Regions from separate parts of the Homo sapiens genome. Here region 1 is linked to region 2. The links come from fine-mapping of genetic effects on gene expression. Tissue or cell type: subcutaneous fat. Region 2 holds a variant in brackets; the other region holds the start of a gene. All regions are shown on one strand. Distances are between the middles of the regions.

Region 1 (8,000 bases), 29 kb after region 2:
TTTGCATTTTCATTCAGTTGGAAATATTTTCTGATTTCCTTTTTGGTTTCTCCTTTGACCTATAAGTTGTTTAGAAATATGTTATTACTCAGTTTCTAAATATTTGATGATCTTTTAGATATATTTCTGTTATTGATTTCTAATTTAGCTCCATTGTAGTCCAAGCAAATAATCTGCATGATTTTAATCCGTATAAATTTACTGAGATTTGTTCTATGGCCCAGAATACAGTCTGCCTTGGAGGACATTATTGGTAAATAAAGGTGTGTTCCCCTTCTGTGAGGTGGAGTGTCCTACAAACATCAAGTTGGTCATGTTGACTGGTAATGTGATCCACGTCTTCATCCTTACAGACTTTTTGTCTATTTTTTATCAGTTCTCGAAAGAGGAGTGTTGAAATCTCTGTTATTGTGGATTTTCTTTTTCTCCTTTCAGTTCTATCAGATGTTGTTTGTTTTGCTTTGTGTATTTTGAAGCTTAATTGTTAGGTGCATACATATTTAGAACTGCTGAGTCCTCTTCATGAACTGATCAATTTATCATTTGGTAATGTCCCTCTTTTTAAATTTTTTTTCTTTCTTTCTAGTACAGATAGTGTTTTGCTGTTTTGCCCTGGCTGGTCTCAAACTCCTGGCCTCAAGCAATCCTCCCACCTCAGCCTCCCAAAGTGCTGGGATTGCAGATGAGAGCCACTACACCTGGCCAGTAATGCTCCTCTTTATTTCTGATTATAGTCTTTGCTTTAAACCTACTTTGATATTGACGTAGTCATGTCTGTGTTCTTTTAATTGGTGTTAGCATAGTATATCTCTCTCCATCTTTTTACTTTTATCTTATTTGTGTTTTTACATGTCTGGTGAGTTTCCCACTGACAGCATATACTTGGCTGTTTCTATTTTTATCCAATCTGACAACCTCTGTTTTTAATTGAGATGTTTTTGTTTGTTTTTGAGGCAGAGTCTCACTCACTCTGTCGCTCAGGCTGGAGTGCAGTGGCACCATCTCAGCTTACTGCAACCTCTGCCTCCCAGGTTCAAGCAATTCTCCTGCCTCAGCCTCCCAAGTAGCTGGGATTACAGGCACCCACCGCCATGCCCAGCTAATTTTTGTATTTTTTAGTAGAGAGGGAGTTTCACCATGTTGGCCAGGCTGGTCTGGAACTCCTGACTTCAAGTGATCCACCTTCCTCAGCCTTTCAAAGTGTTGGGATTACAGGTTAGGATTACAGGTGTGAGCCACCGTGCTCAGCCTGATTGAAGTGTTTAGATGACATAGTGTCATTATTGCTGTGGCTGGGTTTAAATATATGTCATCTTGCTATTTGTTTTCTATTTGTCTCATTGTTTTTTCCTTTCTCCTCTTCTGCAGTCTCTGTAACATGTGCTTTTATAAATAAATAATTCTGTATCATCACTTTTGTTGATTTATTAACTACAGTGCTTTGACTTTTGCTTTTTTCTTTGTCTTTTTTTAGTGACACTTTAGCGTCTTAGCATACACCTTTGACTTACTAGTCTACCTCCAAGAAATAGTAGGCCACTTCACATAGAGTAGAATAAATCTACAACAGTGAACTTCCATTGTCCCTCTCCTGGTCTATTTGTATTACTATTTTTTTTTAAATTTATTTGACACAGCGTCTTGCTCTATCACCCAGGCTTCAGTGCAGTAGCGTGATCACAGCTCACTGCAACCTCCACCTCCTGGGTTCAAGTGATTCTCCCACCTCAGCCTCCTGGGTGCAACCTCAGGTGTGCACCACCACACCCAGCTAATTTTTTGGTATTTTTTTTTTTTTAGAGATGAGGTCTCTCTACGTTGCCCAGCCAAGCCTGGTCTTGAACTCCTGGGCTCAAGCGATCCACTCGCCTCAGCCTCCCAAAGTGCTGGGATTACAGGCGTGAGCCGCGGTGCCCAGCCTGCACTACTATTATCATACAATTTACTTCTACATTTGCTATAAATTCCTTAATACATTGTTATTATTTTTGCTTTAGGTAATCAACTATCTTTTAACTTGATTCAAAAATAAGAAAAAAATTACCTTCTATTTCCTATTTCTGGTGTCATTTATTCCTTTGTGTAGATCCGTATTTCTGCCTGAAGAACTTCCTTTAACATAAAGGTCCCCAACCCCTGGGTCACAGACCGGTTAGGAACCACGCCACACAGCAGGAGGCGAGCGCTGGCGGGCGGGCAAGGGAAGTTTCATCCGTATTAATTCATCGTGGTCTGAGGCTGAAGACCGCGACATACTCTGGTTCTGACCTATGCGTTCCTTCCACGCCCCTTATCCCACCAGAGTGTGAGCTCCATGGGGTGGGAATATTCTGGAACGTCTGCTGGTTTTATTCTTTGCCTTCTCCCCAACTAGGACCTGGCACAGGAGGGTGCGCATTACCTCTCGGCAAACAGAACAACTAACTGGCCTAGTTTGCTGGGGACCGAAGGATTTCCTGGAACCGGAGCCCGCTTGCCCAGCAGGCATGGTGTATTCTGTACCTCAGGCCCGCAAAAATGTTTTAAAGAAAAAAATGAGCTTTAGGGTAGAAGAAAAGGTTTTATTTTTCTTTCTCACATTGGAAAAAATGAAAACTTTCGGACCCATGAAATTTTATTACATTTTGCCAAAAACAGAACCAATAACATAAGTATTCAAAGTTATGTAAAGATAATTATTTAATATGAACATTATGATGGTGAGAGGGACCACGGAGCAAGGGGCTGCCTTGCAGGCCTGCCTTCCAGCTTTGCTACAGGGACCAGAAGCGGGAGCTGAGCGCAGGGGAGGCAGGCGGAGGCCATGGGCAGCGAGGCGGGTGCGCCAAAGGGCGCCAGTTCCGGAGCTGCTGGGCCTGGGCTGCAGGAGGGCGGAGCTGGGGCCGCAAGGCTGGTGCCGGCCGACAAACGACGCGGCGCGGGCGAGTGGGCGGAGGCGGCTGCGGGGAAGGCTGGGCTGCCGCGGGACGCGGTGAAGATAGCCTGCGGAGTGTCCGGGCTGAACACGTGAGTCTGAGGGTCGCCAGGGAATCACTGCGTGGCTGCCTCTGTGTCGGAGATCCAGATGCCTGGACTGGCCTCGGGGTCCCAGCGCTTGCCCGGCGAGCCGGCGGTCCGGGGACGGGTCCGGGCCGAGGCCTGCGGTGAACTCGGCTCGGCGGGTGCCCAGGAGGCGGGTCCGGGGCGGGGCCTGCGGTGAACTCGGCTCGGCGGGTGCCCAGGAGGCGGGTCCGGGGCGGGGCCTGCGGTGAACTCGGCTCGGCGGGTGCCCAGGAGGCGGGTCCGGGGCGGGGCCTGCGGTGAACTCGGCTCGGCGGGTGCCCAGGAGGCGGGGCAGGGGCGGGGCCTGCAGTGAGCGCGGCTTGGTGAGTAGCCCAGGAGGCGGGTCCGGGGCGGGGCCTGCGGTGAGCTCGGCTCGGGGGGTTGCTCAGGAGGTGGGGCCGGGGCAGGCCTGGGGCGGGGCCTGCGGTGAGCTCGCGCTGGGCGGGCTGTTCCGGGGGCGGGACTGGGCTGGGCCTGCGGTGAGCATCAGGCGATGCGGCACGGGTGCTGCGGGACACACAGACACGCCTACGATTAGACTCAGGCAGGCACCTACCGGCGAGCGGCCGCGGGTGACTCCCAGGCGCGGCGGTACCTCACGGTGGTGAAGGTCACAGGTGAGGTCACCCTGATAGTCCCGCTCGCGCCGAGAGCCCTCCCCTCGACCTGGGACCGCAGTGTTTGGGGCGGGGCTCTCCGTGAGGGGGTTGGGAAGCTCGAAGCCGCAGGCCTGACTCTGGCCTTTGGCATCCTGGGGTTGGCCTGGGCAAATGTGTCGTGAGAGACGGATTTGTTGTTCTCGGGAAGGCGTAAGTTTAATTTAGTCCTCCAGGACGGAGACCGAGGGCCGAGTATCCCGGCAGGGGTAGGAGAGCCGTAATCCAACCCCCACCTCCCCACTGTAAACCTCTTTCCAGAGAGGGCATTCCCGTTCCAAACACCAGACCCAGCCGGGGAAATGCTTCTTCTTGTCTGGCCCAAGTGCCCTCCTGGGAGGGGCTCAAAATGCATTCCCCCCAAGCTGGGCACAGCTCATCCCTGCTGGGGAGCTTCTGCAGTGGCCGAGGACTCAGACAACCCTAACCAGGGCTCTGGAGGTCTTCTGGAAGAAGGAACCCCAAGTAGGGACACCCCAGGAGCAGAGAGGAGGGGAACAGCGAGAAGAGACCCAGCTTTTGGGCCCAGTCCTGCCATGGCCAGCCATCCGGCCCCCAGGGCCCTGCTTGGGATGGGGCTGCAGACCACCTCCCATGGGACCTCTGCACCAACCATCCCCTGGGTAAAATCCTTGTTTAGGCCTGGTATTTAAGGCCCCTCTGCCCATCCCTACTCCTTCTCTAGCACTGCCCCTCATCCTCCCCCCATCTCTCCTCCATCCAGCGCTACAGGCTGTTTTGAGCTTTTGCAGGTGCTGGTCTCTGATTGAAATGTCCTGATCTCTTCTCCCTTCTTGTCCCATCCCAAGTGTCTCCTCCTCCAGGAAACCTTCCCTGACACCCACTGAGTTAGGTGGCCCCTCTGCCCACCATCATCCCTGCCCAGGCCCCCATGGGTCCTTCAGGCCCAGTACTGACCACCTGTCTTTGCCACCTGCTGTGCAGGGTTGCAGCACTCCCAGTAGACCAGGAGCTCCGGGAGGCAGGGCCGGCCCCACGTCCTCTGCGCACCACCCTGAGTTGGATCCTCTGTGCGCCACCCCTGAGTTGGATCCAGGGCTAGCTGCTGTTGACCTCCCCACTCCCACGCTGCCCTCCTGCCTGCAGCCATGACGCCCCTGCTCACCCTGATCCTGGTGGTCCTCATGGGCTTACCTCTGGGTAAGATGGACAAAGGACAGAGGGATGGGCAGACCCACTTTGAGGGCAGATGGGCTGACAGTAGGGAAGGAGGCTAGAATTCCCAGCGACAACCCCTCCTTCTAGCCCCCTGCCCCGGGGAAGGTGACGGGCTGGGGGCCTGATGGGCTGGAGGAGGGGCCTCTCATGTTCTGTGACCCCCGTTCCCTTCCCGCCCATCTGCCAACCCCAGCCCAGGCCTTGGACTGCCACGTGTGTGCCTACAACGGAGACAACTGCTTCAACCCCATGCGCTGCCCGGCTATGGTTGCCTACTGCATGACCACGCGCACCTGTGAGTCTGGGGGCCCTGCGTGGCCCTGCCTGGGGAGCACGAAGGGGAGGTTCTGCCCTGCCCCTGAGCATGCGGGGGTCCTGAGGAAGGAGGCTCTCCTGTTCCCGGATCCTGTCTGGGAGCTCCAGGCTGAGGGGCCCTGCCCTGATGGCTGTGGATGCTGGGGTGGGGCCAGCTGGGTCTCCTGCCCCTCTTAGCGGAGCTGGCTCACCGCCCCGCCCCTCTGCAGACTACACCCCCACCAGGATGAAGGTCAGTAAGTCCTGCGTGCCCCGCTGCTTCGAGACTGTGTATGATGGCTACTCCAAGCACGCGTCCACCACCTCCTGCTGCCAGTACGACCTCTGCAACGGCACCGGCCTTGCCACCCCGGCCACCCTGGCCCTGGCCCCCATCCTCCTGGCCACCCTCTGGGGTCTCCTCTAAAGCCCCCGAGGCAGACCCACTCAAGAACAAAGCTCTCGAGACACACTGCTACACCCTCGCACCCAGCTCACCCTGCCTCACCCTCCACACTCCCTGCGACCTCCTCAGCCATGCCCAGGGTCAGGACTGTGGGCAAGAAGACACCCGACCTCCCCCAACCACCACACGACCTCACTTCGAGGCCTTGACCTTTCGATGCTGTGTGGGATCCCAAAAGTGTCCGGCTTTGATGGGCTGATCAGCCCCTCGCCTGTCCAGGGCTATTTATGGGGAGGGGCCCAGTCAGGCAGGGAGCACTGAGCAGATGGGAGCTGTGGCCAAGCCCACCTTCTGGGAAGCCCTAGGAGAGGCCCCTGCCTCAGTCTGCCCCTGGTGTGCTGGGGCAGGGGGAAGACAAGGAATGCCCGCAGGTGGGGTGGTGGGGAGACTCTTAGGAGGAAAGGCTCCTCCAGGCCTAGTCACGCTTCCTACTGAGGCCAGGAGCTGCCAGGACCGGTACGGGATCAGGGCTGTGGGAGGAGGGCCTTTGGCACCGGCCCCTGTGCTAGGAAGTCTGCCAGGCCCGAGTTGGAGCCACCCCCTGCAGGGGAGGGGGCGGCTCTGCCTCAGCAGGCCCCAGGGCCCCCGAAGTCACAGAAGCTTTTTCGGGTCCAGCAAGGGGTGTGTGTCCTCTCAGTCAAACCCCTTGACGTTTCCCACCCCCTCACGGGGAGGGCACCAGGCCTGAAGCTGGCAGGAGCTAGGGCCATGCTATATTTGGTGGGTCCTGGACGCTGACCCGGCCAGCGCTATTCTGGGCAGGGAGGGAAAGGGGCAGAGCAGGTGGTCCCCCGAGTCCTGGTCCCCAACCACAGCAGGACCCAGCCGAGCAAGGCAAAAGACGCAGGACTGGGGGATGCGCGCACAGGCTGGGGGTTGGGAGCAGCCTGGGGCCGGCGCGGGCCTGGGCGTGGGAAGGCGGAGCATGCCACCCTCTCGTGGCCGTGCGGGGGCGGGAGTGGGGAGGGTGGGGTGGGGAGGGCGGAGACCCAGCCCCTCCCCCGCAGCGGGATGCGCACAGTGAGTGGGTCCCTCCATCACCTTCCACCTGGGGATGCACCCACTGGGAGGGCAGGGTGGAAGCCCCAGCTGGGTGTGTGGACTCCCAGGGACCCCACCCCAGGCCTGGGAAGCAGGGGTCAGCCCAACACGCACCAATCCATCCCCGATGCAGGTAGCCCAGGGAGCACCTGCCCCTGCTGTGAATGGGGCATTCGGGGGCGTGAGACCTTTTGGTGCCAGCGGTCACGCTGCACCTGAGGCCCCCACCTGACCAGTGCTCCCAGCTCTGGTGTCCTGAGAAACCCTTCAAGCCATCCCGCATGGGCAGGATGGTGACATATCCATGTGGTAGGATTGTCCCGGCCCCAAAGTATGGCCCTGGTCAGGGGAGCCCCTGCTGGAAATTGCATCTCCAGAGCTTTGATGCAGGACCCCTGGGGGATCAGGGAATGAGGGTCTCCACCCCAGGGGTCTCCTTGCAGTGAGTCTATATGCAGGCCTGCGTTCTGCTCCTGGGGCTGGTTCTGAGTGCCCAGCTTCAGTCTCCTGAGAACATGAGGATGGGAGGGGGCAGAGTCTTGCTGAGGGCACACCCAGTTCCCGCTGGAGGAGGACAGTGCCAGTCTTCTGCAAAGGGACCTTGGGTGGGAACGGGCCCGGAGCGGGAGGAACGTGACTCCCCAGAGGGAAGATGGGCATCATACTGGGCCCAGAGCTGGGAAGGAGTTGCTGCCAGCACAGGGTGGGCCTGGACTCCCCTCGCCCCTACCCCCAGTGGTTGTGGCTGTAGCCCTAAGCCTGGAGAGCAGGACCGGCCCGGGGTGTCTGGGAGGCTGCCAGGTGCCTCCCAGAGCTCCCAAGGGCCCCCACCTGCAAGTGCCAGCCTCAGGGCAGTGCCCAAATGAGGCCCTCTCAGCTGCAGCCAGCGATGCCTTGGGATGCTTACCGGGAGGGAGGCGGCTTTGGGCTCCTAAGTCCTTGGGAGAGGCTGGGAGCAGTCACTGCGCGGCTTGCGCAAGCCCATTGTCGGGTTGGGTGGCTTCCTCAGCCAGGGCTGGGAGGGACTCCAGGATCAGGTCCTCCCTGTCTCGAGTCTCAGTGGGGTGATGGGGAGGAGACCTGGCCACCCATGGCTCAGGGGCAGCTGAGAACAAGGACCTGCTGGAGCTGGAAGTGCTGTGGTGTTGAGGGGTGGGGTGGGCAGCTTCTCACACCTGCCTCCTGCCTCCTTCTGTCCACCTTTCCACCACCCTGACCTGTCCCAGCCCCACACATGGTTCTGCCTGGCTGGCCTGCCCTTGGCACCTGGCGTAGAGCACACAGAAGGCACTCAGCTAATGCTGGGCAGGCCCACTCATGGG
Region 2 (8,000 bases):
CGCTCACACTGTTTCTCACACACACACTTATGCACACACACATACTCTCACACTTAGTCACACTGTCACACACACATTCAGTCTCACATACATCCTCATACTAACACACACTCATACACTCACTGACACTTTCACACTCATATTCAATCTCACATACACACTCATACACATGAACTCATTTCTCACTCATACACTCATGCTATACTAACACACTCACACACATTCTCACACTCACTCTCACACTTATACACACACTCACATTCACTCACATATACACATGCACCACACTCGCATCCTCACACTCACACTTGCACACTCACATTCATACACTATGCTCACTCACACACACACACACTCGTTCACACTCATTCACATTCTCACACGCATACACTGACACTCACACTTTCACACACATACACTCACTGCACACACACTTTCACATTCACTCTCACACTCATATACATGCACTCATACACTCACACTAACACACTCAACTCTCACACTTACACTCATACACTGTCATTCACACACATATTCGTGCACACTTGTACACTCACACATAGCATCACACACACAGTCTTACACAGTCTCATTCACACACTCATTCACTCACATACACACAGTTATACACACGCACTCACACTCATACACTATACTAACACACTTACATCCACACACACCTTACACACACACTCACACACACTCATACACTTATTGTCATTCACACACTCATACACTCACACATCCCCATACACTCACACACACTCAAGCTCATACACTAACACACTCACATGCACTCATTCATTCACATACTTATACACATGCACTCACACTATACTAACACACACTCATATTCACACATTCTCACACTAACACTCATACACTCACTGTCATTCACACTCATACACACACTCATACACACACATGCTCATACACTAACTCAGTCTCACACTCTCATACACTCACACTCTCACAGTCTTACACTCACACACAGCCTCACACACAGTCACACTCACACAGGCACCCATCCGCCCCAGCCCCTGTCCTGCCTCTGCAGCGGAAGGGGCCCAGCCTTGTGCAGATTGGTTACTACTCAGGGCAGGTGGAGCCCAGCACCGGGGATCTCTCCCCAGCCCACTGCTGCTGCTGCTGCGACCCTGCCCCTTCTTTGCTTTCACAGACTCAGAGCCCTGTGGCACTGGGATGGGGGGAGGAAGGGCACATCACAGTCTGTGCCATCCACGGTGGCACTGGCAGCTCACCATGCCTTTCTTCCTGGGGCAGGGCCCTGCAGGGAAGCTGAAGAAATGCTCCCTGCCTCAAAGTACCCATAAGGGGCCTCCTGGCAGGTGTGTGTGGAGCCCCCTCCCCTCCCCTCAGAGGCTGTGTCAGGGCCTGCAACGCCCAGCTGTCCTGTTACACCACGGGTCTCGGTTCCTCCCACCGGCCCTGACCCTCAACCCCACCAAGGGGTGGATGAGGAAACCTTCCCAGGCCTGGGCTGAGGACTGAGGTTGTGTCTGCAAAGGTGCCCGCCCCAGAGTCCAGTCCCTGTCCCATGGCAGCTTTGCAGCTCACACGCTGCCATGACCCATGGCCAGGAAGCCGCTAAGCCCAGAGGTGACCTGGAGTGAGCGGAGCAAGAGGAGCTGAAAGGAAATGATCCTTCCTTTCCACTGGGGGTCAAGGCAATGGGAGCCCACATGCCATGTGTGTCCCCAGATATGTAAGTTTTCAAAGGAGCTAAAAAACAGTTAAAATAAAATACTGTTGACAAATATAACATCAACACCACAGGGAAAGCCTGGTGTTCATTCAAATTCCAGACTCCTTGGCCTTCATGCTGGGAGATGGCTGCAGAGAGAGCCAGTCCCAGCCCTGGAGCTTGCCTGCCCCACCCCCCGACATCCTGCATGGCCCCGACCTGGGCATCCAGCCCCACCTTCCAGCCTTGGGGTGGGTGCCCAGCAGCTTGGCCTAGCTTCCGAGGGTGGATGGAGAAGAGGGCCCTTGGGCTCTTGGGTCTGTGCAGAGGTCGGGAATGGGATTCAGGCCCTCAGGGGCACCTCTAGGGCACAGGTCCAGACAGAGGGGATACAGAGTGCTCCAGACAAGGCAATCTTGCTGATGGGGCAGCAGGGGAGAAGCGTGTTCAGGGTACAAGGGAAGGCCTGGGAAAGGCTGAAGGTGAGTGTAAGTGTCTCATGCAAGGGGTAGAGAGGACTGGAGCCAATCCCAGTGGGGAGGGCAGACAGGATGAGGAGGGGGAGGTGGAAGGAGACCAGAAGGGGAGCCATCCTGAAGCAGGGAGACATTGGGGGTTGGAGGAGAGACTCCCAGGGGATTTGAGCTTGTGAGCTGCTGCCCCTCAGCCTCCAGAACCCCAGAGAGACCCTGAGGATAGAAATGGGGCCAGCCCCACTGTAAACAGGCCATGTCCCGTGACCCTAGAATATCCCTGTCACCCCACAGTCCCCCAGGCCTGGCCTGGGGTTGGATGGGTAGTGATTCAGACATGGCCAGGCTGCCCTGTGCACCTTGGCTCTGCCACTGGCCCAAGCTAAGCCTACCCTAGACAGGCAACACCACCCCAAGGAGCCTGCACCATTCCAGGCCCCGCCCAGGCCTCCACAGCCAGCATTTCGACCGGATCCTAGGTGATTTGTGTGCACACTGAAGATTAAGAAGCACTGGCTCAAAGCTTCCAGCCTCCAGTGCCTCAGTTTCCCCATTAGAATGGGTTTGGTGACCCCTGCCTACCCTGGTGCAAGGGAGAGTGCAGAGGGGAGGGGGCCATAGATATTCAGAAGCACCAGGGATGAGGCTGTACCTACTCAGAAGCGGCGGGGAGGGGGCTGTACGTACTCAGAAGCGGCGGGGAGGGGCTGCACATACTCAGAAGCAGCGGGGAGGGGGCTGTACGTACTCACAAGTGCGCTGGGCAGTCCCCCCAGGCTGCAGAGGTAGAGCCATGACCCTCTGAGAACACCCAGGACAGGGCCCAAGCTGCAGGGAGTAGGGGCCCAGAGGCTCAGGACCAAGGGACAGCAGAGAGGGGGGCACAGGAGCCTTCTGAGAGTCCTGGAGGTGGGGCAGAGTGAGGCCTAGTGGCATGAGTCAGGCCGGCCCTGCTCTCCCCAGCGCATCTTCCGGCTAAATTACCAGGTCTGGCTCAGTCGCCGGCCACCATATAAAGGCGCCTTTGCACTGTGGCTCCCAGTCCCTGGCGGA[C/A]AACCCCGCGATGAGGCTTCTCCTGGTGCTGCTGCTTCTGGCTGCTGTGTGTGCTGCCCTGGGTAAGACGCTGGCCACACCAGGGGAGGGACAGGGGCAGGTGGCTCCTGGGCTGGGCACCCCGGGACCGGGCGCTGGCAGGGCAGGCTTTGCCAAGGATCACCAGCCTGGACTGCGGGCTGCAGGGAGTTGGGGGAGGCCTCTTCCTATGGGCACAGCTTCTGGTGTCTTTGTGGCTTGTGTGGGGAAAGCCCCGATGCTGGTCCTGGGTTCCAGCCTGGGTTCCATCCCCCTTTTCCCAAGACAGAGGGGAATTCTTGGGATGTTGGACTCTGAGTGCTAAAAAAGAAAGTCCTAAGAAAACCAGGGCTAGTTGGTCACCGCCCTAGCCCCACTCTACCCTGACCTTGATGACCTGGCTTTGGGGCCTGAAAAGGGGCCAGGAGGCAGGGGGTGTGGGTGGGAGGGACAGAGCATGTGATTATCAGCTGAAAAATTATCATCTAGCGATAATTAGCCCCATCAGCTTCTCCTGAGCGTGGGGTGAGGGTAGGGGGGAAGTGGGGAGGGCTGGAGACTTTGGAGAGCAGCCCCAGCTTGAGGAGGGGCCTGCAGTGGGAAGGCTGGAAAGACAGATGGAGGGGGCATCAGGAAAGGGCAGGAGTCAAGGTCAGGCTGCCCAAGCTGATCGGATCCCTCCAGCCCCTATACGGAAGGGCACAACCCTTCCATATATCAGGGCACAACCATGGGAGAGAAGGGGCCAAGGGTGCTAAGTCAGGACATGGGGACACTGGCCTGGGACACCTGTGCTCTCTGGGGCTTACTTTGCTTTTCTGGAAAGTTGGCCCATATGATGCTGACGGTCAGACAGCACCTGCTGGGAGCTGGTCACTGCTCCCAGGATCTAATGAGGGTGACCCCTTCATTCCCATCACAGCCCGAGGGCTTAGGGATTACCAGGATCCCTACGGAGAAGTGGCGGTAATGTAAGGTCCTTGTTCAGAGGAACCTAGGAGTGTTTCCCGGCCCCACCAGCACCAGGAACCCAGCTGTAGGCAGGGAGAGCAAGAAAGGTCAGGGTCAGACCCCAAGAACATGGATATCAGCTGCACAGGTGCGGAAGATGCAATCACCCCACGCAGCAGGCACTCGCTCTGAAGTCAGAGCAGGTGTGCTTTGCCCAGGGAACTGCTACAGGACACCCCCATCAAGACCACCCTACAGGAAGCCTACAGGGCACCCGTTATAGAAAACCCCTACAGAACATACCTAAAAGACACCCCTACAGAACACCCCCTAAACAACATCCCCTACAGAATACCCCATAAAAGACACATCTACAGGACATTCCCTACAGAGCACCGCCTGCAGTACACCCTTACAGGACCCCTGTACAGGGCACTGCTACGGGACACTCCCTACAGGACACCCTTACAGGAAACCCCTACAGGACACCCCTGCAGAACACCCCTAGAGGACACCCCTACAGAACATCTCTACAGGACGCCCCTACAGAACACCCCCTACAGGAAACCCCTTCAGGACACCCCTACAGGACCCCCGTACAGGGGCACTGCTTGAAGACACTCCCTACAGGACACCCCTTACAGGAAACCCCCACAAACCCCCCTTACGGGAAACCCCTAAAGGACACCCCTAGAAAACACCTCCTACAGGACACCCCTACAGAACACCTCCTACAGGACACCCCTACAGAACACCTCCTATAGGACCCCCCTACAGGATACTCCCTACAGGGCGTCCCTACAGAACACCTCCTACAGGATACTCCCTACAGGATACTCCCTACAGGACACTCTCTACAGGACACCACTACAGGACACTCCCTACAGAAAACCCCTACAGGAAACCTCCTACAGGACACTCCCTACAGGATACTCCCTACAGAAAACCCCTACAGGAAACTTCCTACAGGACACTCCCTACAGGATACTCCCTACAGGATACTCCCTACAGGAAACCCTCTACAGGACACTCCCTACAGGACATTCTCTACAGGATACTCCCTACAAGAAAACCCTACAAGATACTCCTACAGAAAACCTCTACAGGACACTCCCTACAGGACACTCCCTACAGGAAACCTCCTACAGGACACCCCCTACAGGACACCACCTACAGGAAACCCCTACAGGACACCCCTATATGACACCCCTACAGTACACCCCCTATAGGACACCTGAACAGGACACCCCCTACAGGACGCTCCCTACAGGACACTCCCTACAAGACACTCTTACAGGAAACCTCTACAGGACACTCCCTACAGGCTCCCTACAGGAAACCCCTACAGGACCTGCCTTACAGGAAACCCCTACAAGGCGCTCCTACAGGAAACCTCCACAGGACACTCCCTACAGAAAACCCCCTACAGGACACTCCCTACAGGACACCCCCTACAGGACACTCCCTACAGGACACCCCTACAGGACACCCCTACTGGACACCCCTATAGGACACTGTACAGGACACCCCCTACAGGACACTCCCTACAGGAAACCCCTACAAGACACTCCTACAGGAAACCTCTACAGGACACTCCCTACAGGAAACCCCCTACGGGACACTCCCTACAGGGCACCCCCTACAGGACACCCCTACAGGACGATCCCTATAGGACACCTGTACAGGATATCCCCTACAGGACACTCCCTACAGGACACTCTGCAGGACGCTCCTACAAAACACTCCCTGCAGGACACCCCCTACAGGACACCCTTACAGGACACTCCCTACAAGACACCCCCTACAGGACACCCTTACAGGACACCCCTACAGGACACTCCCTACAAGACATCCCCTACAGGACACTCGTACAGGACACCACCTACAGGACACCCCTACAGGACACCACCTACAGGATACCCCCTATAGGGCACCTTTCTCACTACCTCCACCCCCAAGTCCTGGTACAAAAGGCTCAAAGATGCCTTTCCAGGCAGCACAGCCTCCACACCAGGATGTGGTGTTTCTGGCTTCTCCACCCACTGTCACGCCCTGTCACAGCTCCTGGGGCCTCACACCCTGAACAATCTGGCCTTCCCTCTTCCTTGCTGCACCTTCTGTCCAAATGTCTCTCCTCCAACTACAAATAGAAATCCACCACCCATGTCCCTACAGGGCCACCCACTCCAGGAAGCCTTCCCAGATCTCCCTGCCCTCTATCAAAACTGTGTTCCCTCTTGGCCAAGTGTCTCCCCAGGGCATCCATTGTACCTTGCCCTTCTTCCATAGGTCCCCATGACTGTACATCTCAGCCTTGTCCATGGAGCCCGTGGACCCAGTCCTCAATGTCGTTGGAAGCTGGGGGCAACCACACAGCACACAGGTGCCAGCCAGGAACACAGCCCACCCATGTTCCTCCCACTTGCAGCCTGGACCAGGGCCTGGCTGCAGATCCCTACATGGCTGGGGTATGGGCATCACCAGCAGGCTTCAGGCAGATAGCCCTCTCAACAGCCCTTAAGCACCTTCTGTATGTGAAGTCCCCAGAGCCACACCTGCCCTAGGAAAGGCAACCCAGCTGCCTCTGGCTTCCCTGCCTGGAGCTTCCTGCAATCCTTTTCCAGTAAAGAAGGGTGGGGCAGGGGCCAATGTTTTGTGCATTTCATCATTTCATCCTCCCAAAAGACCACAGCATGGGCTGTTATTACTCCCATTTGGTAGGTGAGGAAACTTTGATTCAGACAGAAGATGGGGACAGTAAGAAGTATAACACAGGTCACCTTGAAGTTACCCCTCCTTGTATGCGTCATGCTGCCCCATCCCTTCTCTCCACCATTTGCCACTCTACCCATGCATCCTTCCATCCACCCACTTGCCCATCCACCCACCCACCCAACCACCCTTCCATCCATCCATCCAACCATCCACGCACCCACCCATCCATCCTTCTATCCATCCACCCACTCACCCATCCACCCACCCACCCATTCACCCTTCCATCCATCCACCCACCCATTCATCCACCATCCACCCACCCATCTACCCTCCCATCCACCCATCCATTCACCCATCCATCCATCCACCCACCCCTCCTCCCTTCTACTCGTCCACCTGCCCATCCACCCACTCAGCCATCCACCCACCCATCCACCCTTCCATCCATCCATTTGCTCTTTCATCCATCCACGCACCCACCCATCCACCCACCCATTCACTCTTACACCCACCCATCCATCCACCCACCCTTTCACCCATTCACCTGCCCATCCATCCACCCTTTCACCCATCCACCTTTCCATCCACTCACTCACCCATCCACCCTTCCACCCACTCACCCACCCATTCACCCTTCCATTCATCCACCCACTATCCACTCTTCCACTTATCCACCCACCCATGCTTCCGACCACCCATCCATCCATCCATCCACCCACCCACCCTTTTATCCACTCACCCACCCACCACCCACCCGTTCACCCTTCCATCCATCCACCCACCCATCCACCTTTCCACTCGTTCACCTACCCACCCACCCACCCATCCACCCACCTAACAACCACCCCTTCATCCATCCATCTTTCTCCTGATTTAGCTGATGTGGCTCCACTACATTCTCTAGCATCCCCAGTCCTCTACCCAGTGGCAGTTTCAGAGGGCAGGGAGGCAGATGTGTGCATGAGTTTACAGGTGCTAGGGAAGCCGTGGGAAGAAAAGTGGCTGGGAAGACCCTTCGTGAGACCTGGGGCAGCCTACACCTGCCCCACACATATCCCTCCCTCATGCTGACAGCCTGACATTCA

Direction of the effects. Positions count from the first base shown, and alleles are read on the strand shown. Sizes are in standard deviations (SD) of each study's normalised expression.
As copies of A replace C in region 2, the expression in subcutaneous fat of the gene that starts at base 3,563 in region 1 goes down (moderate effect, 0.68 SD a copy in GTEx).

The links. PIP is the estimated chance that this variant, and not a neighbour inherited with it, causes the effect.
Region 1: it holds the start of LYNX1, and the variant in region 2 is fine-mapped to the expression of LYNX1 in subcutaneous fat (GTEx, PIP 0.93).

Annotation. Positions count from the first base shown.
Region 1 is chr8:142,772,765-142,780,764 of GRCh38, reverse strand. LYNX1 (Ly6/neurotoxin 1) reads left to right here and starts at 3,563. Exons shown (of 4, transcript NM_177477.4): 1 at 3,563-3,659; 2 at 4,644-4,859; 3 at 5,071-5,172; 4 at 5,402-8,000. The coding sequence starts at 4,808. The coding sequence ends at 5,598. It overlaps LYNX1-SLURP2 (LYNX1-SLURP2 readthrough), which reads left to right and starts at 2,893. Exons shown (of 5, transcript NM_023946.5): 1 at 2,893-3,006; 2 at 4,644-4,859; 3 at 5,071-5,172. The coding sequence starts at 4,808.
Region 2 is chr8:142,801,384-142,809,383 of GRCh38, reverse strand. No RefSeq gene overlaps it. Among named protein-coding and RNA genes, the nearest start is that of LY6D, 19 kb to the right of the region's middle. The variant C/A (reference allele first, on the strand shown) is at 3,232.